Homo sapiens: one gene and its partners. The protein of the gene in region 1 binds, or shares a complex with, the protein of each later gene. Each region holds a gene or a part of one and is shown in the gene's direction. Other genes may lie near its edges.

Region 1 (7,024 bases):
ACGGGGTCTTGCTCTGTCACCCAGGCTGGAGGGCAGTGGCGTGATCTCGGCTCACTGCAGCCTCTGCTTCCCAGGTTCATGTGATTCTCCTGCCTCAGCCTCCTGAGTAGCTGGGACTACAGGCATGTGCCACCACGCCTGGCTAATTTTTGTATTTTTAGTAGACACGGGGTTTCACCATCCTGGCCAGGCTGGTCTCGAACTCCTGATCTTGTGATCCACCCACCTTGGCCTCCCAAAGTGCTGGGTTTACAGGCGTGAGCCACCACGCCTGGTCAAAAATTACACTTTTTTTTGTAGAGACAGAATCTTGGGAGGCTGAGGCAGGAGGATTCCTTGAGCCCAGGAGCTGGAGGCTGCACTGAGCTATGATTGCCACTGCACTCCTGCTTGGGTGACAGAGTGAGACCCTGTCTCAAAAAAATAAATAAAAATATAGATCTTGGACAGACGCGGTGGCTCACGCCTGTAATCCCAGCACTTTGGGAGGCCGAGGCGGGCGGATCACGAGGTCAGGAGATCGAGACCATCCTGGCTAACACGGTGAAACCCCGTCTCTACTAAAAATACAAAAAAATTAGCCAGGTGTGGTGGCGGGCGCCTGTAGTCCCAGCCACTCGGGAGGCTGAGGCAGGAGGATGGCGTGAACCTGGGAGGTGGAGCTTGCAGTGAGCCGAGATTGCACAACTGCACTCCAGCCTGGGCGACAGAGCGAGACTCCATCTCAAAAAAAAAAAAAAAATAGATCTTTTTCCATACAGAAGAAATTTGTTATTATCACAAGGTGTTGTCTGAGTGAAATGAAGGCTGTTTTCCTTCTCCTTCTGACTGCTCTCTCAGGGTTGTGGGAGGGGCACCAGGGACCCTCTGAGAACTTTGTTTTGCACCTGGTCATGTCCAGCTGACTCTTAGCTTGGCCTGTCTCACAGGTGTCTGACTCCGTGAGTGGACAGACCGTCGTTGACCCCAAAGGCTACCTGACGGATTTAAATTCCATGATCCCGACACACGGAGGAGACATCAAGTGAGTGCTTTGCAGAATCGCTGGGCTGGGATGGAGACTCTAGTTGCCTAGGGTATTTTGGATTTTATATGGACAGTATGCTGTCAAAATGGGACATGGCGGTTCTAAGAAATGTAAAGTGGAGTAGTTTGTTTTTTCCATTTGAAATGTATCTGTATCCATTCATTGCGTACACTCAATGTGTTACATATGATACTGCAAAGTCCCTGCCTGTGCTGGGCAGGAAAGCAGCTGGCTGTGTCCCACATGTCCCATCTGGACCTTCGGTTCTCAGCGTTTGTCTGCGGGGAGGCTACAGAGGCTTGGAATAGTGCGCACTGAGGTTTTGAGTTGGTTTTTGTAACTCAGGACATCAGGACTGATAGTTCTTACATTGTGACTGTGAAGTGGGTGCCCTCATCCCAGGTCTCGGGTGCACCCCTGACAGCATGGCCTGATGCCGTGTGCACTCTCCCTCTCATAGTGATATCAAGAAGGCGCGACTGCTCCTCAAGTCTGTTCGGGAGACGAACCCTCATCACCCGCCAGCCTGGATTGCATCAGCCCGCCTGGAAGAAGTCACTGGGAAGCTACAAGTAGCTCGGAACCTTATCATGAAGGGGACGGAGATGTGCCCCAAGGTGAGGTATTTCCTGGGAGGCGTTTCCTGGGAGGCTGCGTGATTGTGGCCCCTACGGGAGTAAACTTGTTAGAGCAAATCTCTTTGTCTTTTGGTATTGAAACTACAGACAATAGGGCAGGCTGGGGGAGGATGTGAAAAGCAGCCAAGGGCTTTTTCCTGCTTGTTTTCATGTGGAGTGAAGGCTAATCCACCACTTTTTTTTTTTTTGGAGACGGAGTCTCGCTCTGTCACCCAGGCTGGAGTGCAGTGGCACGATCTCGGCTCACCGCAAGCTCCACCTGCCAGGTTCACACCATTGTCCTGTCTCAGCCTCCAGAGTAGCTGGCACTATAGGCGCCCGCCACCATGCCTGAATCCACCACGCCTGAATCCACCACTGGTTTGACGGCAGGCTAAGCTTCATTATAAAGAGCTCAGTTGGTCAGCTCTTCACCCGCCTAATGGTGGCCAGTCACGGTGGCTCACGCCTGTAATCCCAGCACTTTGGGAGGCTGAGGCGGGTGGATCACTTGAGGTCAGGAGTTAGAAACCAGCCTGGCCAACATGGCGAAACCCCGTCTCTACTAAAAATATGAAAGTTAGCCAGGCGTCGTGACAGGTGCCCATAATCCCAGCTATTCGGTAGGTGGAGGTTGCAGTGAGCTGAGATTGCACCATGCTGCTCCAGCCTGGGCGACAGAGCGAGATTCCGTCTCAAAAAAAAAAAAAAAAACAACAAAAAAGAACGACCCGAGCAGATGTGCAGTCTCTGCTTTGTCCATGGAGTTGTCCTGAAGGAAATCATGCTCTTTTCACAAAGTGGTGTTTCATTTTTTTTTTTTCTTTTTTTTTGAGTCTCGCTCTGTTGCCCAGGCTGAAGTACAGTGGCGTGATCTCAGCTCACTGCAACCTCTGCCTCCCGGGTTCAAGCAATTCTCCTGCCTCAGCCTCCTGAGTACCTGGGATTATAGGCACCTGCCACCACACCCGGCTAATTTTTGTAGTTTTAGTAGAGACAGGGTTTTGCCATGTTGGCCAGGCTGGTCTCAAACTCCTGACCTCATGATCCACCTGCCTCGGCCTCCCAAAGGGCTGGGATTACAGGCGTGAGCCACCGCGCCCGGCCATTAGGTGTTCTTCAGTCAGACATATGGTAGCCATGTTCCCAAGTGTGGTTATAAGGGGGCGACTCCTGGTGCAGGTGTGTTAGAGGCTGAGCTAATTGGCTTTCGTAAATTCTGGGGCCCGAGGATCTGCTCTGGAGATCTGTGCCTGCTGCCCTGTTGCGGCTTCCAGCCTGCACTGAGCCTTATTGGTCTTATCTCTTGCCTCACAGAGTGAAGATGTCTGGCTGGAAGCAGCCAGGTTGCAGCCTGGGGACACAGCCAAGGCCGTGGTAGCCCAAGCTGTCCGTCATCTCCCACAGTCTGTCAGGATTTACATCAGAGCCGCAGAGCTGGAAACGGACATTCGTGCAAAGAAGCGGGTTCTTCGGAAAGGTGAGCCTCCCTCGGAGGTGCTGCTTTCTCCCTCCTTGGGGCCCCTCCTCTCAGCAGCTTTCCTGCTCCTGGCTCAGGCTTTTGGTGAGAGTGGATAAGGAACCAGGGACATTTTTCAGGCCTTTTCTCAGGCTGGGTTGCCTCTGCCCTTGGACCCCCATGGGGGAGGGATACTGTGGTGGGCAAGTTCCCATCCTGGAAGGGATGCTTGGGTTGAGCCCTCACTCCTGCCTTTTTCCAGTGTGTGATCTTGGATGCTTGGGCGGTCACTCTGGTCCAGGCTTCCCTCATCTGCAGGGTGAGAACAACGGTAGCTCAAAGCCTGTGTCCTGGGGCTCTGGAGATGGTCTGTGTGAAGAGCTGAGCCGGCACCTGGCACGTGCAGACCCGTTGTGGGTGTTACTCATTTTCTCTCCTGAGAAGGCACCAGAGCCACACGTTGATTGAACTCTTTCCTGCTGCTGACGAGGCTGTGCCTTCTGCTCCCGCGATGCAGCGTGTGCCGTCAGCTCAGGTCAGATAACGACAGACGGTGTGCCTACCAGGCAACCTGATTCCATCCAGGGATTCCTGCCAGGGTAGAGCTTTTGTGGGTAGTTTGTTTATTTTTATTACTGTGGATTCATAAAAGGAGCACTGTTTCTCCTGTCACTGGAAGTGTGTAGTAGATGCTGCTCTTGAACTGGGTCCAGAACGAGTGCTAGTCAGGGGGCTGTTCTGAAGCTAATCTGTGCAGGTGGCTTCTTTTTTTTCATTTTTTGTTTTTTTTTTCTGGTTTTTTTTTTTTTTTTTTTTTTGAGATGGAGTCTCGCCCTGTCGCCCAGGCTGGAGTGCAGTGGCGTGATCTCGGCTCACTGCAAGCTCCGCCTCCCGGGTTCACACCATTCTCCTGCCTCAGCCTCCTGAGTAGCTGGGACTACAGGCGCCTGCCACCACGCCTGGCTAATTTCTTTTTGTATTTTTAGTAGAGATGGGGTTTCACTGTGTTATCCAGGATGGTCTCGATCTCTTGGCCTTGTGATCTGCCTGCCTCGGCCTCCCAAAGTGCTGGGATTCCAGGCGTGAGCCACTGCACCTGGCCTATGCAGGTGGCTTCTATCCATTTTTTTTTTTTTAGACAGAGTCTCGCTTTGTCGCCCAGGCTGGAGTACAGGGGCACGATCTTGGCTCACTGCAGCCTCTGCCTCCCGGGTTCAAGTGATTCTCCTGCCTCAGCCTCCCGAGTAGCCGGGATTACAGGTGTGCGCCTCCATGCCTGGCCAATTTTTGTATTTTTAGTAGAGATGGGGTTTCCCCATGTTGGCCGGGCTGGTCTCAAACTCCTGACCACAAGTGATCCTCCTGCCTTGGCCTCCCAAAGTGCAGGGATTACAGGCGTGAGCCCCTGTGCCTGGCCTTTTCTTTTCTTTTTTTTTTTTTTTTGAGATGGAGTCTCACTTTGTCCCCCAGGCTGGAGTGCAATGGCACCATCTTGGCTCACTGCAACCTCCGCCTCCTGGGTTTAAGCAATCCTCTTGCCTCAGCCTTCTGAGGAGCTGGGACTACAGGCACCTGCCACCACGCCTGCTTAATTTTTGTATTTTTAGTAGAGACGGGGTTTCACTGTGTTGACCAGGCTGGTCTTGAACTTCTCACCTCAAGTGATCCACCCACCTCGACCTCCCAAAGTGCTGGGATTACAGGCGTGAGCCACTGTGCCCGGCCAGATTTTTTTTTTTTTTTTGAGACAGCGTCTTGCTCTGTCACCCAGGCTGGAGTGCAGTGGCACGATCTTGGCTCACTGCAGCCACCACCTCCCAGGCTCAGGCGATCCTCCCAGCTTAGCCTCCCAAGTAGCTGGGAGTATAGGTCCCACCCCCATGCCCAGCTATTTTTAATTTTTGGTAGAGATGGGATCTTGCTGTGTTGTCCAAGCTTGTCTCAAACTCCCATCCTCAAGTGATCCTCCTGCCTTGATCTCCCAGAGAGCTGGGATTACAGGCATCAGCCGTCGCATCCAGCCTATTCTTCCTGAATTTATAGCCTAGGAAAAATAAAGTGTATTTTATGGAATCAAGGGCAGTTTTCAGTGAGAGCTTTCCAGCTCTTGTTTTTCCAAATGTCTTTAAGCGAAATATCCCATTGAGGCTTCTGTGCTGATAGGACCGTGCAGATGAGGGCTCTTTGGTAGAAAGCCCCTTATCAAATATAGTTTCATTCACTTACTGTCTACGTCTGTTAGAAGACAGGTGAAGGCTGCTTGCCTGTGATGCATGTTCCCCCGACCCTGTGCACTCACATGTGAACGTGCTTTCCTCTGTCGAGGCTGGTTTCTTGACCGCAGCCCAGCTGCTCAGTGAATGCTCAGAGACAGCCTCTTTTATTTTTTTTTATTGAGACAGAGTCTCGCTCTGTCGCCCAGCCTGGAGTGCAGTGGCACGACCTCGGCTCTCTGCAAGCTCCGCCTCCCAGGTTCACGCCATTCTCCTGCCTCAGCCCCCCAAGTAGCTGGGACTACAGGCGCCCGCCACCAGGCCTGGCTAATTTTTTTTTGTATTTTTATTAGAGATGGGGTTTCACCATGTTAGCCAGGATGGTCTTGATCTCCTGACCTCATGATCCACCCGCCTCGGCCTCTCAAAGTGCTGGGATTACAGGCGTGAGCCACCGCGCCCGGCCAGAGACAGCGTCTTATAATGAGGTGGCCAGGAACAGAAAGTTAGCACCTGTCTGGGTTTGTAGAAATCAGTTTATCTTTTTTCAGCTAGGAAGAAATAGTTCTTTGATGAAGAGCCCATGAAAGTCTGGGTAATTAGTATTGTTTACTTAGAAAAGCTCTATTGAATTCTTCCTGCCACAGTTTGATGAATGATCATGAATGTCTTTGTGGCCACTCCCTGCTCACCACCAGATTGTCTGGGTTCATTTCCAGTTGGTTTGGATTTGGAGATGGGAGTATGCTGTTGGAGGCGGGGGCCTTCGGGGAGTGTTGAGGGACTGTGTTTCCACGGCTGTTCTCTCAGGGAGTGGCCTCCTGGCTGTGCTCTCTCAGGCAGAGAAGCTGGGCTAAGGTGGAATGAACCCAGGATCTCCAGGATGGCCTTTGCCGCTGCCCTAATACTGGTCCTGGCCTGCCCTTTCCCAAGAGTGTTTCCAAAAACTGTATTCTTTTCCTGGGGTGAAGCCCAGCACTGCTTCATTTGGTTATTAGCAAACACTTACACGTTGCTTGAAGGGTCTGGTTTTTGAAATTAAGATGACAGCTACTTCCACTGGTGACTTAGGACACCTGCCAGCCAGGGAGCCTGGCAGTGCATGGTCTCTGTGAGCTCTGGGTCGCTGTTGGGCTGAGCTGACACCTTAGTCCTTTGTTGGGAGAATGGGCGTTTTGGGTGCTGATCTTGAGACCTGAGGAGGCTGAGTAACCTTAGGCATGGTGCTTGGCCTCTGAGCTTCCATGTCTTCCTCTGTAAAAGGGAAGAGGGCTTTCAGGATTGGGGAGGGTGCAGCATGTGAGCTTCCTGGCCAGGGTGGGGTGTCCCACGTGCAGAGTCCCCTGGGGAGGCCCGACTGGCAGCTCCCCTACAATAATGCACTCACATGCTGTGTACTCCGCTAGTTAATGCAGATGTGTGGAAGTGGAGTTATTTTACACTAACGCCATATGCTCTGGCCTGTGAAGCGTGGCATCCTTCAGTGGCCGTCGCCAGCGTGTCCCTCTGGGGGCACAGGAATGGCACAGTTCAGGTTGAGGGTCTTCCCTGCAGTCACGTGACCCCCGGAGAGCATGTTGGCCTCTGCACGGTCACGTCTTCATGGCTGTGTCTAGCATTCAGAATACTCTTCTGTTCTAGGCCAACTTCAGGGGTGTGTGCTTCCTCCACTTCTGCTCATAAAGTCACACTCCTTGAAGGCCATTGT
Region 2 (6,995 bases), on another chromosome or scaffold:
CTGCACTCCAGCCTGGGCAACAGCAAGACTCCATCTCAAAAATAAAAAAATAAAAAATAGAGACAGGATTTCACCATGTTGGCCAGGCTGGTCTTGAACTCCTGACCTCAAGTGATCTGCCCATCTCAGCCTCCCAAAGGGTTGGGATTACAGGCATGAGCCACTGTCCCTGGCCTTAATATGTTTTTGAGATTCATTCATGTTGTGGCACACAGCAGTACTTCATTGCTTTTTGTGGTTGAATAATATATTGTATTGTATAGAAATAGCACATTCTGCTTATCCATCATCAGCTGATGAACATTTGGGTTGTTGCAATATTTTGGCTATTGTGAGTAGTGCTGCTATGGACATTTGTGTACAAATGTTTATGTAGACATGTTTTCAGTTCTGTTGGGTAGATTCCTAGGAGTAGAATCGCTGGGTCATAGGGTAACTCTATGTTTAACTTTCTTTTTTTTTTGAGGAGTCTCGCACTGTCACTCAGGCTGGAGTGTAATGGCACGATCTTGGCTCACCGCAACCTCTGCCTCCCAGGTTCAAGCAATTCTCCTGCTTCAGCCTCCCGAGTGGCCGGGATTACAGGCATGTGCCACCATGCCCAGCTAATTTTTATTTTTATTTATTTATTTAGTTTGAGATGGAGGTTCACTCTTTTTGCCCAGGCTGGAGTGCAATGGCATGCTCTCAGCTCACTGCAACCTCCGCCTCCTGGGTTTAAGTGATTCTCCTGCCTCAGCCTCCCGAGTGGCTAGGACTACAGGCTCACGCCACCACGCCCAGCTAATGTTTGTATTTTTAGTAGGGACAGGGTTTCATCATGTTGGCCAGGCTGGTCTCAAACTCCTGACCTCGTGATCCACCCGCCGCGGCCTCCCTAAGTGCTAGGGTTACAGGGGTGAACCACCACGCATGGCTGTTGAGCATTTTTTCATGTGCTTATTGGCCAGTGTATATTTTCTCTGGAGAAACGTCTGTTCAAATTCTTTGCCCAGACCAGGAAAGGTGGCTCAGCCTGTAATCCCAACACTTTGAGAGGCTGAGGTGGGTGGATCGCTTGACCCCAGGAGTTCGAGAGCAGCCTGGGCAACATGCCAAAACCCCATCTCTACTAACAATACAAAAAATTAGCTGGGTGTGGTGTGTGCCTGTAGTCCCAGCTACTTGGGAGGCTGAAGTAGAAGGATCACCTGAGCCTGAAGAGATTGAGGCTGCAGTAAGCCATGATCGTGCCACTGCACTCCAGCCTGAGCAACACAGTGAGATCCCCCATCTCAAAAAAAAAAAAAAAAAAGTAAAATAAATTTCTCTTTGCTTGTGGCTCCTTTAGGTCCTGGCTGACTGTCATTTTCCTGGGCCTCTCTTGCTTCCTGAAGACTTTTCTCTTCCCTTTTCTACATCCCAGTCTAACCCCAGCTCCTCTTTCCTTTCTCATGTGGGGCAGTGACTCCTTTGACTTGTCTTCACTAGACACCTTCCCCCATTTTCAACAAGTTGGCCCAGGAAGTTTCCCTGAGCCCCTTCCGCAGAGTGAGGAAGCACGGCTGTCATTTTTCTTTTCTATCTTTAATTTAAAAATTGTTTTTATTTTTTGAGGGAAGAGTCTTGCTATGTGGGTCAGCCTGGAGTGCAGTGGCACAATCCTAGCTCACTGCAGCCTTGAAGTCCTGGGCTCAAGCAATCCTCCTGCCTCAGCCTTCCAAGTTGTTGGGACTACAGGCACACACTACCAGGCCTGGCTACTTTTTAATTTTTTGTAGAAACAGGGCCTCACTATGTTACCCAAGCTGGTCTCAAACTCCTGGCCTCAAGCAATCTTCTTTCCTCAGCCTCCTAAAGTGTTGGGGTTATAGGCATGAGCCACCACACCCAGCCTGTTGTTTTCTTTTCAAAATCATAATTATTTTCTTCCTTATTTACATTTTAGTGTGACGATTGTTCCAGGGCTGCAGTCTCCTCTTGTGGAAAATAAGGGAACCAGACTACTCCATCTCTAAGGCTCCTACCAGGTCTAACATACTATGGAAACTTATAAGTCCATCTGAATGACTAAATGCAGGATTTACATTTGGTAGAGCCTGATTAGAGAGGAAAAGAAAAGATGGGGAAAGTTTCCTTTTTTTCTTGCTTCACAGGTTTGCCCACAGCCCAGCTGCATCTGTGAACATGAATGCTACTTCTACAGAAACAGAGTGGAATCTCCGAAATACCTTTGAGACCCTTTCGTGTCAGGTGGGTGGGCCACAGCCTGATCATGGAATAAAAGTCAGCCTTAAGGATTCAGATTTCAATAACTTTCAGTGAACCCCACCTTGAGTCAGGCACTTTGCTAGGTGCTTTTAAACACACTATCCCATTTAATCACAATGGGAGGAAGGTTTTATTGCCTCAATTTTTTTTTTTTTAAGACAAAGAGTCTCACTCTGTCATCCAGGCTGGAGTGCAGAGTTTGATCTCGGCTCACTGCAACCTCCACCTCCCAGGTTCAAGTGATTCTCCTGCCTCAGCCTCCTGAGTAGCTGGGATTACAGGCACCCACTACCACGCCTGGCTAATTTTTGTATTTTTAGTAGTGACAGGGTTTCACCATGTGGGCCAGGCTGGTCTCAAACTCCTGACCTCAAGTGATCCGCCTGCCTTGGCCTCCCAGAGTGCTGGGATTACAGGCGTGAGCCAGCGTGTCCAGCCAATTGCCTCAATTTTAAGGATGAGGAAAATGGTGCTCACCGAGAGGCCAGGTAGCTAGCTACTTCAAAGTCACACAGCCACTGAGGAGCAGAGCCATGAGGACTCGACTGTCCCTTGGGAAGACGAGTTATTAAAAAAAAAACAAACACCCACCAAAGCAGCAAACTCCATGCCTACAGGGGCTGGGCAAGTAAAAATAAGGAGATGGGCAGGCATGAGAAAACAGGAGCAGTGGGAAGGACTTGCCTATTCTCTGACCTTGGCAGCTGCTGACCAGCAGCAGGTCATGCCATGCAGCAGTGTGGGTGTCATGTGGCTGATTTTCTAGTATCTCAACTGATGGGGGAGAGCCAGAGTTTGCATGAAATTATCCCAATTTTTAAAGAAGGAGCCAACAGTGAGCCAAACACGATACCACTACAGAACAAATCTGGTCTAGGGGACTGCTATTGAGGATGAATTCCTTTGGCTTAACACCCATCCTCCTGTTCATTCATCTTCTCAAAAGCAAACATGCTCTAAGTGAGGAGGGAGGTCACCTTCAGCCATAAGGCGCCATTCTACTGGCGAGAAGTGGTGGGGAATGTGGGACAGAGAAGACTTTGTAGCTGGGGAAGAAATTAAGTCATAGTCACCAAGGATTTGGCCCTGCCTTCACCGGTTTCCCTGGGCGGCAGGGAGGGCCCTACCATAGAATGTTACCGACAAGTGGGAGCAAATGGGGGCCCCGGCCCTGTTCGTTCAGCTGGGTGAAAACGAGGGTCTTGGGGGCACAGGTTTAGGTGGGATTGGTGGGGGATAGTAGCTTTCTTTTTCAATTGTTGAACACAGAAGAGAAACCCAAAGCAAGGCGCCAATCATTAAAACACACAAACACAGACACACGCGCAAGTCACCTTGCTCGCTGGGTACTTTAGTTACCTCAAACGGAAATGGGGTTTTCGGCCCCTCTTTTCCTGCCTACCTCATGGGACTGTTGCCAAAGAGGAAGGAACCGGAAGGAAAGGTCTTGGGACAGGACAGGGGCTAAGCAGCCGTGCATTCGTTATGATGTGAGGGGTGCCGGGGGCTGGAGACTGAGGTCGGGGAGAGCACGGGCCCTGGGTCCTTAGTGCCAGCGGGCGGCCAGAACCAGAGTGCGGGGGTCTAGGGATTCGGGGACCCAGACGCACCAGGCCCACATATCCCGCTCAGAAGGGTGCGGAAAGCCGCGCGCACACGGCAGGGACACGCCCCAGACACGCCCCGCCCCGCACTTCTGGGGCGCGACCCGGAAGCGGAAGGGAACCCGTTTCTTTTCCTTCCCCAGTGCGTCTTTCCTGCGTCGTTCCGGCGCGGCGGGAGCAGAGATCTGCGGCCGTTTGCAGCTTGCGGTAGGGAGGCGTGGTGGTCTGAAGCCTCCGAGCAGCCGCGGCCATGGCGGATGTAACCGCCCGTAGTCTGCAATACGAGTACAAGGCGGTGCGTTTGGTCTTGGGGAAGGATTCCAGGCTCAGGAGTCCAATGGGGAGGGGGAGGCTGAAAAAGGGAGTTTCAGTCTGAAGGCCTACAGGAGAGCCACGAAAACGAAGGGGAAATGGAATCGGGGTGAAGGTGGGGGTTATACGATGACGTGAATAACCTACTGGGGTCTGGGGAGCGCTAAGATCTCTCTAGGAGGAGTTTCTCGAGTACCTTCAACGCTAAGCCCTCCCCCTTCCACACGTCACTCCCAACCCACTCACTACTTTTCACAGGTGTGGGTTATGATGGGCGCTGTTAGGAACAAGAATTGTTTAGCTGATTCGACAGCGCATAAGACTTATTCAGCTGTACGCTTCTGCACAGCGTTATACTATGCAATTCTTAAGGAAAATATATTTTTATTACGATTAGTGATGATAAGCAACTAGTTACTACGATTTTTTCCATCAGCTGGGGTAACTATGATAGTAGGAATTGGCCCTGCTCATGTCAAAGCTTCAATAATGTTTTGATCTTTTCAGAACTCGAATCTTGTGCTCCAAGCTGACCGTTCTCTCATTGACCGGACCCGCCGGGATGAACCCACAGGAGAGGTGCTGTCCCTTGTTGGGAAGCTGGAGGGCACCCGTATGGGAGACAAGGCTCAACGGACCAAACCGCAGATGCAGGAGGAAAGAAGAGCCAAGTGAGTGCCAAGGGGATACTATTTTTTCCTTCAGATCCAAAGTCTCTTCCCTTTAACATTCGAGCAGCATTTTTGCTGGAATGCTTGGTGTAAGATCAGTGGCATTAAAACAATTCAGTGAAGGTAAAAACAGACCAGGAGAGTTTAAAGATTTTTTGGCCTTAACAAGTGCATCTCAAGTGGAAAATAACTTGTTGGTACCTTTTTCTTACATGTGTGTTTCTGGTCCATAGACAGATCTTAATTTTCTTCAGGGTATTTTCAAGACCCTTGCTATTCCTATGTCCCAGTAATTCGTTTTCCTTTTTTCCCATTACTAACTTCCTACCCCTACTTTTTCCATTTACTCTTGTCCACGTTCTACCTATTTTGTTGTAACAAACTAATTTAAGCATCCATAGTATGAAAGACAGGTTTCTTTCTTAGTTTGCATTTTTTTCCTTTATTTTTTTTTTTTAAGATTTCTTGGGGATATGTTTCAAAAACTTACCTTTACCTCATCATTATCTTTTGATCCTGAATATCTTGGTGTCTTGCTCCCTTTCCTATGATGAAGTTTCCAAAATTCCTAGGCTTAGTTTGATTAAAGTAGTTATGTTTGAAATGAGTTAATACATTATCTCCACTTTGTGCTATATCTTCTTTTCCAGTTTTGTTATACTTTGTTGATAGTCAACGGCAGTAGATTCTGTTAGAGCTTGGTTCTCTAGCTAGAAAGGGAAAATGCATTGGAGAGGTGAAAAACTAGTCAAAATCCTATTATATAATAGTCTCATACAATGTATGAAGGGTTGTACTTTTTTTTTTTTTTTTTTTGAGACGGAATCTCACTCTGTCACCCAGGCTGGAGTGCAGTGGCGTGATCTCTCTCACGGCAACCTCCACCTCCCGGGTTCAAGCGATTCTCCTGCCTCAGCCTCCTGAGTAGCTGGGATTACAGGCGCTCGCCACTGTGCCCGGCTAATTTTTGTATATTTAGTAGATACAGGGTTTCTCCATGTTGGCCAGGTTGGTCTTGAACTCCTGACCTCAGGTGATCCGCCTGCCTTGGCCTCCCAAAATGTTGGGATTACAGGCGTGAACCACTGCACCTGGCCAAAGGGTTGTATTTTTTAAATGAGAAACATCTCATTGTAATGTTTAGTGCATCTAGTGAGAAGATGATAGGGAATTTTTCTTTTTGTCACTGTGTCCCATAAAGAAATACTCCTGCAAGTGATTAAGGCCAAACGGAATCATTTGCTGAGGCTCAGATACCTGTTTTCAGATATTAACTTCTTGCCATGAAGCTGAGGAGAGGAGGGTGGGCTTGATCCAGTCTTCCCTTGGGGACGAAAGGTTCTGCCATTCAATATCACATTGCATGTCCATTAGGCGAAGAAAGCGTGATGAGGACCGGCATGACATCAACAAGATGAAGGGTTATACTCTGCTGTCGGAGGGCATTGATGAGATGGTGGGCATCATCTACAAGCCCAAAACTAAAGAGACTCGGGAGACCTATGAGGTGCTACTCAGCTTCATCCAGGCTGCTCTTGGGGACCAGGTGAGTGTGATATTGTGAAATATATATTAGGTCTTTATTTCATTTTCTGGCATACAGCTTCTAAGATCCTTGGAATCTTCGAAGTGCTAAGTATCTTTTTGTATGCTGATGAGTTGACTGATGGCTGGCAGCACTTAGGTAGTTCAGAATGGAGGCTGGTCATTTAATCAATCATGCCTACATAATGAAGCCTCCATAAAAACCCCAAAAGGACTAGGTTTAGAGAGTTTGTGGATAGCTGCACACATGGAGGTTTCTGGAGGGTGGTGCGCCTGAGAGGGCCTGGTAGCGCCACACCCATTCCCACATGCCTGCCCTGTGTACCTCTTCCATCTGTTGTCTTTTGGTAGGCATCTTTTGTAATATGCCTTATAGTAAAAATAAGTGTTTCCCTGATCTGCTCTAGAAAATTAGTTGAACCCCAAAAGGGGATTGTGGAAACCTCGATTTATAGCTGTATAGTGAGAAGCACAGGTCAAACAACCTGTGCTTGTGACTGGCATCATGAAGTGGGAGGCAGGCTTGTGCGACTGAGTCCTCAGTCTGTGGGATCTGACGCTATCTCCAGGTAGTTAGTGTTGGAACGGAATTGAATTTGAGGACCCCCAGCTT
Region 3 (7,024 bases), on another chromosome or scaffold:
GCCACAGGGGTAATATCCACACCCCCAGGACTTTTACAAAGATCAGATGAGCTGTATGTGTGCCATAGCTGCTCAGTGCCTCACATACTGTGAGTGTTCAACATATGATACCTATTGCTTTTTTCCAGATGAGAAGGTCAGAGAGGTAAAGCACCTTACACCGCGGTCAGGCATCCTGACCATCCATTGGTTTGCAGGGTTCATTTATTTGTGATTTTTCTGTAGCTTTGAGCGTCTGTCATCTTCCTGCGAGGTTGACAAGCTTGGTCAGTTCCCTGAATGCAGAGAAGTAGACCTCTGGTGACTCAGGTTTATTGCATTACTGTCAATAGATCAGTTTATCTATTGAGGGTAGATAAGTTTATCATCTCTCATATATCCAGTCCTCTGGCTTAAGGCATGCTCATCCACTTTAAGGTTCTTTAATTTGGTGAGGAGAATGCAAGACTTGGGTTAGTGAAGCTTAATGGGTTTGTTCAATTAGCTGTATGTATTTGGACAACTTGCTGGGTTTCCAGGGCCTTTGTCATCCCATCCGTAACGTGAAGGTGTCTAACCAGATAACCTTGGTAGCCATTCAGAGATGCAGTCAACATGACACAAAGTGCACAGACCTTGGTGTCCGACAGACCTGGAATCAGCTTGTAGCCTGCCCCCTAGGGTGACTTGGGGCGAGCTTAGCTTTGGACCTCCTTCATCCTCTGGTCCCTCCTCTAAATCAGGGATAAAAATAGCACCTTGGCCTCAGAAGGAACCATGCCTGACCAATGGTGGGGGACAGCCACCTGCCTCCCTGCTTGTATTTGTATGCTAGTGCTACCATAACAAAGTTTCACAGACTGGGCAGCTTAGACAACACAAATTTATTTTCTCATAGTTCTGAAGGCTGGAAGTCTGAGATCAAGGTGTTGGCAAGGCTGGTTTCTTCTGAGGAATGTGAAGGAAGGATCTGTTTCAGGCCTCTCTCCTTGCTTATATATGGCTCTCTTCCTGTGTCTTCACTTGGTCTTCCCTCTGTAGTGTTTCTGTCCAGATTCTTCTTATAAGGATACCATGCATGTAGGATTAGGGCCCACTCTAATGACTTCATCTTAACATAATTATGTTTATAAAGAATTTTTTTTTTTTTTTTTTTGAGATGGAGCCTTGCTCTGTCACCCAGGCTGCAGTCTTGCTCTGTCACCCAGGCTGGAGTGCAGTGGCGCGATCTTGGCTCACTGCAACCTCTGCCTTCCAGGTTCAAGCGATTCTCCTGCCTCAGCCTCCTGAGTAGCTGGGACTACAGGCATCTGCCACCATGCCCAGCTAATTTTTGTATTTTTATATTTTTAGTAGAGACAGGTTTCACCATATTGGCCAGGCTGGTCTCGAACTCCTGACCTTGTGATCTGCTCGCCTCGACCTCCCAAAGTGCTGGGATTACAGATGTGAGCCACCATGCCCAGCTTGCTTGCTTTTTTTTTTTTTTTTTTTTTTTTTTTTTTTTTTTTTTGAGAGTCTCACTCTGTCGCCCAGGCTGGAGTGCAGTGGCATGATCTCAGCTCACTGCAACCTCTGCCTCCTGGGTTCAAGCACTTCTCATGCCTCAGCCTCCTGAGTAGCTGGGACTATGCCCAGCTAGTTTTTCGTATTTTTAGTAGAGATAGGGTTTCCCCATGTTGCCCAGGCTGGTCTCAAACTCCTGAGTTTGCCTCAGCCTCCCAAGTGCTAGGATTACAGGCGTGAGCCACTGCACCTGGCCTTTTTTTTTTTTTTTTTTTTTTTTTTTTTTGAGACAGAATCTTGCTCTGTTGTCCAGGCTGGAGTACAGTGGCACAATCTCAGCTCACTGCAAACCTCCGTCTTCCCGGGTTTAAGCAACTCTCTTGCCTCAGCCTCCTGAGTAGCTGGGGTTATAGGCATGGGCCACCGTACCCCACTAATGTTAATATTTTTTGTATTTTTAATAGAGATGGAGGCTCATCATGTTGCCCAGGCTGGTCTCTAACTCCTGAGCTGAGGCAATCTGCCCACCTTGGCCTCCCAAAGTGCTAGGATTACAGGCATGAGCCACTGCACCCAGCCTTTTTTTTCTTTTCCTTTTTCTTTTCTTTTTTTTTTTTTTTTTTTTTTTTTGAGATTAAGCTTTGGTCTGTTGACCAGGCTGGGGTGCAGTGGTTTGATCATAGCTCATGGGCAGCCTTGGACTTCTGGGCTCAAGAGATCTTTTCACCTCAGTCTTCTAAGTATCCAGGACTACCAGTGTGCCCCACCATACCTGGCTAATTTTTAAATTTTTTTGTAGAGACGGAGTCTTGATATGTTTTTCAGGCCAGTTTCAAACTCCTGGCCACAAGTGATCCTGCTGCCTCAGTCTCTCAAACTCCTGGAATTACAGGCATGAGCCACCACATCTGGCCTGTAAAGATTTTTTGTCTCTAAATATGATCACATTCTGAGGTGCTGGGTATTAGGACTTCAACAATGAATTTTTTTGAGGGATACAATTTAGCCTGTAACAGGATGTAGAGGCCTCACTGGGTCTATCAAAACCTAGGCACATTGAATAAGAGCCAGCAGACTGTGGCGTAGCTAAAGCTGGTGGTGGGTGAACTCTGAGCACAGTTTAGTTTGTTCAGCACATCTCAGGCTGTGAGGCTTGCCTGTCCTTCCCAGATCCAGTCATTCTGCCTTTTGGGAATGAGAACATCCTCTTAGCACTTTTCCTTGCTTGTTCAATAACATTTTCTGTTATAAAAGTGGGGTGGGACAAAATGTGGTGGCTACTCCTATAATCCCAACACTTTGAGAGGCTGAGGCAGGAGGATCACTTGAGCCCAGGGGTTCAAGACCAACCTGGGCAACATGACAAGACTTTGTCTGTAAAAAAAATAAAATAGACGGATGTGGTGGCACATGCCTGTAGTCCCAGCCATTCAGGTGGAGGCTGAGTTGGGACGATTACTTGAGCCCAGGAAGTCAAGGCTGCAGTGAGCTATGGAGTGCCACTGCACTCCAGCCTGGGCGACGGAGTGAGACCTAGTCTCACACACACACAAAAGCACACCACAACGATTCGGAAAAGATAAATAGAGGATCTCACTCTGTTGCCCAGGCTAGTCTTGCACTCCTGGACTTAAGCGATCCTCCCACCTTGGCCTCCCAAAGTATTGGAATTACAGGCCTAAGCCACACCTGCCCTGTTTTGGGGTTTTAGTATTTACTTTTTATTCTATCCTCTTTCAGAAATAGTTAGACCCTGTCTCTTCTGAAAAGCAAAAAAGTTTAAAAATTATCTGGATGTGGGGCTGGGCACTGTGGCTCACGCCTGTAATCCCAGCACTTTGGGAGGCTGAGGCGGGCAGATCACGAGGTCAGGAGATTGAGACCAGCCTGGCTAACACGGTGAAACCCTGTCTCTACTAAAAAAAATACAAAAAATTAGCCAGGTGTGGTGGCGGGCGCCTGTAGTCCCAGCTACTCGGGAGGCTGAGGCAGGAGAATGGCGTGAACCCAGGAGGCAGAGCTTGCAATGAGCCAAGATCGCGCCACTGCACTCCAGCCTGGGCGACAGAGCAAGACTCCATCTCCAAAAATAAAAAATATATTATCTGGATGTGATGGCTTATGCCTGTAGTCCCAGCTACTCCATAGGCTGAGGCAAAAAGGATCACTTGAGCCCACCCAGCAGTTCAGGCTGCATTAAGCTCTGGTCGCACCACTGCACTCCAGCCTGGGTGACAGAGCAAGACCCTATCTCTAAAATTAAAAAAATTCTATGGCAGGATAAAAGTAGATGCATAGATCATGGTGCAGGTAAGCTGGGGTAGAATGTAAAATGAAGCCAAGCAGTCAGTATCCAGAAATGTAAACCTGAATCTCTCTGTACATTGAATAAAGGTATATTCCAGTGTAAGATTAAGCAGGGAAGATCATCAGTTCCAAAATGCATAGTGTTCTTAAGTTAAAATAGCAATTGTGTGGATTTCCCTGGCACTCAGATACAGGAGACACTATTAGATGATATCCTCGACAACATCCCCATACAAAATACCCTTTTATGGTCCCTCAAGTAGTTTTAAAGTATCCTGTTATCTTAGCACTGTTTTTGACATTTGAAAATGCAAAATATGGCCAGGCACATTGGCTCATGCCTGTAATCCCAGCACTTTGGGAGGCTGGGCCAGGGGGATCACTTGATCCCAAGAGTTTGGGACCACCCTGGGCAACACAGTGAGACCCTGTCTCATATATGTGTGTGTGTGTGTGTGTGTGTGTGTGTGTGTGTGTATGTGTGTATGTATGTATATATGTATGTATATATATGTGTGTGTGTGTGTATATATATATATATTTTTTTTTTTAAAGGAAGAAGAGGAAATATGTGTATGTGAAACTCAGGATGAGGTCCCTGAAATGGTGCTTATCGGGTCAGAGGGTGTGCATCTGAGGTTAAGCTGGGAAGGCAGGGAGCTTTTGTTCTCCTTCTCATTCCGACAGCTGCAAGCCAAGCACTGGTGGCCAGTGCTGCAGGATAGGGCATCAGCTGCAGGATATGGCATGTTGGTCAAAATGCTGTTGGCATAAGTGAGAAAAATAACAATACTCCAAAATATGTCCCCAGTTTTATAAAAATGGACCCAAATTATAAATGATACAAGCAAATACAGAGAGTAATGGTCAAACCCATTTCACTACATTCAAAATGACTTAATTCTTAGAAGTTTTGGTGGGAGAATGTGGTGTAGAGCTCTGCACAAGCAGACATTGTGCTTTTGGGGCTTCAACATGACCACCCAATCACTGATGGGACTGTTTGAAATCTGTTTTGTTGGCTTTGGCATATAATAGCCATCTTTGGAAAACTGGTCTCTGTATGGAATATGGTCTTGTGTCACTGTATAAAAATGAGAACCCAAAAGAAGCTCTCACATGATTGGGTCAGAAAATTGCCCATAACTATTGCTAGGAAAGTTTTTGAAATCTCTGAATTCAATGTAATTGAATTTCTTTAGACACCTAGCCCTCTAGGTTGAAGGAAAACCAGTTTTTTAAACTTATCGTATACTTTTTTTTTCCTGTACTGTTTGTGTGTGGATTGCATTCATCATGCTCCTCTACCCCATAATACTTTTGTATTTCCTAAGAACAAAGATAGGTAGATGGCCTTAGTTGGTATTCGTATTATAGCAGTGGCATCCAAGCACCTCTGCCTTTGTGTATGTGTGAAATTGTCCTAAAGAATGCATTTCTGGTGTATTGACAGGCCTGAGACACCCCAACACACCTTCACAGTCCTGGAGCTAGCTTTCTCCATCTTGGCCCCAGGTATCTAAGAAAGTCCCACCACTTTGTGCTACAAAGATTCTCTCTCTCCCCCTCAGGATGTCATTTCAGTTGGGTACCTGGCTTATACCATATGTGTTTCATTGTGGCTGTTGAGGAAAGTTGATTAAACTGGGTGTTCCTGCCTGGAGTTGATTAGGATCTGGTTCACTCAAAAGTTGCTGCCTTGGGCTTGTGATACAAACACAGGTCAGGCTTATTAGCAAGCTCTAGCAGGCATGTGTGCAGTGAGACTGTGGGGTTTTGTCCACAGCAAGCTGTTCTTAGCCAGTGCTACAGGGAAAGCGAGAGCAGTAGTGAGCCTGGTTGTTAGGGTTAAAATAGGAGTCAGAGGACACTGGACTCTCCTGCTTCAGCCAGGACATAGTTCATTTATGGAAATGCCTAGATTAAGTCTTGTCGGACTTATGCAACAGCTTCTGTCAGGAAAGGAGTGAGATGTGCCCCTGTGCTGGAGGGAGTGTGGCTTAGCAGTGGCACAGCTCCCAAAACACATTTTAGCTGTCAATCAGATTTAGCATGTACTGAGTCTCTATTATGTATTAGGCAATAGAGACAGCATTTAGACATACTTTGCCTTGTTCATTTTTTTTTTTTTTTTTTTGACAGGGTCTTACTCTGTTGCCCAGGCTGGAATGCAGTGTCATAATCATAGCTCACTGCAGCCTTGAACTCCTGGGCTCCAGCCATCCTCCCACCTCAGCCTCCCAAGTAGCTGGGACCACAGGCATGCACCACCACACCTGGCTAATTGTTAAAAATTTTTGTAGAGATAGGATCTTGTTACATTTCCCAGGCTGGTCTCAAACTCCTGACCTCAAGCAGTCCTCCCACCTTGGCCTCCCAAAGTGCTGGGATTACAGACATGAACCACTGTACCTGGCCTGATTTGCTTTTTAACAATTTCAGGAAATGTGCAGTGGTTAAGAGTGTGAGTTAGAAAGAACTGGGTTCAAACTCCAGCCAGGCCATGTAAGCGTGGTGTGACCTCAAGCAGGAGAATAGAGGGAAAGGGCATGGGTTTCTGGGGACAGATCTGCCTCTGAATGGCTATGTCACTTCATCTCTTTACCTTGTAGGATTTTGTGGGGTAACATGAGCTGCCGTGGGGAAATCACCTGGGCCAGCACTTGATGTCTAATAAGTGCTCAGTAACTGTTGGCTTTGTTGTCTTGTATTTTCAAAACTCAGCTTTGTAGTTGAGGGAACGGAGGCTCAGGGAAGCCTGGAGATATACCTAGGGTTACACTTCTGACAAATGGCAGAGCTGGATCTCACCTATAGGTCTTTAGGCCTATTTTGTGTCTTCTACAGAGTCATGAGTGTGGCACAGTCCCCAAAACACGTTTTTTGTTTGTTTGGTTTGTTTTTTGTTTTTTGAGACGGCGTCTTGCTCTGTTGCCCAGGCTGGAATACAGTGGCGTGATTTTGGCTCACTGCAACCTCTACCTCCCGGGTTCAAGTGATTCTCCTGCCTCAGCCTCCCGAGTAGGTGGGACTACAGGCACCTGCCACCACACCCGGCTAATTTTTGTATTTTTAGTAGAGCCAGGGTTTCACCGTGTTTGCCAGACTGGTCTCAGGTGATCCACCCACCTCGGCCTCCCAAAGTGCTGGGATTACAGGCATGAGCCACCGCGCCCAGCCCCAAAACACATTTTAATTGTCAGTCAGATTCAGGTGAGCCTGAGTTGTATCC

The links. The genes of interacting proteins can lie anywhere in the genome.
Region 2: PRPF6 (region 1) and SNRNP200 share a complex: the UniProt entries of both Homo sapiens proteins name them as parts of the U4/U6-U5 tri-snRNP complex.
Region 3: PRPF6 (region 1) and SNRPD3 share a complex: the UniProt entries of both Homo sapiens proteins name them as parts of the U4/U6-U5 tri-snRNP complex.

The regions. Positions count from the first base shown.
Region 1 is NC_000020.11:63,998,116-64,005,139, forward strand, and holds part of PRPF6 (pre-mRNA-processing factor 6), read left to right. Parts: intron 1-929; coding exon 930-1,024; intron 1,025-1,487; coding exon 1,488-1,644; intron 1,645-2,961; coding exon 2,962-3,124; intron 3,125-7,024. UniProt on the Homo sapiens protein: Involved in pre-mRNA splicing as component of the U4/U6-U5 tri-snRNP complex, one of the building blocks of the spliceosome.
Region 2 is NC_000002.12:96,302,547-96,309,541, reverse strand, and holds the start of SNRNP200 (U5 small nuclear ribonucleoprotein 200 kDa helicase), read left to right. Parts: upstream 1-3,995; 5' UTR 3,996-4,104; coding exon 4,105-4,149; intron 4,150-4,673; coding exon 4,674-4,837; intron 4,838-6,211; coding exon 6,212-6,383; intron 6,384-6,995. UniProt on the Homo sapiens protein: Catalyzes the ATP-dependent unwinding of U4/U6 RNA duplices, an essential step in the assembly of a catalytically active spliceosome. Plays a role in pre-mRNA splicing as a core component of precatalytic, catalytic and postcatalytic spliceosomal complexes.
Region 3 is NC_000022.11:24,558,975-24,565,998, forward strand, and holds part of SNRPD3 (small nuclear ribonucleoprotein Sm D3), read left to right. Parts: intron 1-7,024. UniProt on the Homo sapiens protein: Plays a role in pre-mRNA splicing as a core component of the spliceosomal U1, U2, U4 and U5 small nuclear ribonucleoproteins (snRNPs), the building blocks of the spliceosome.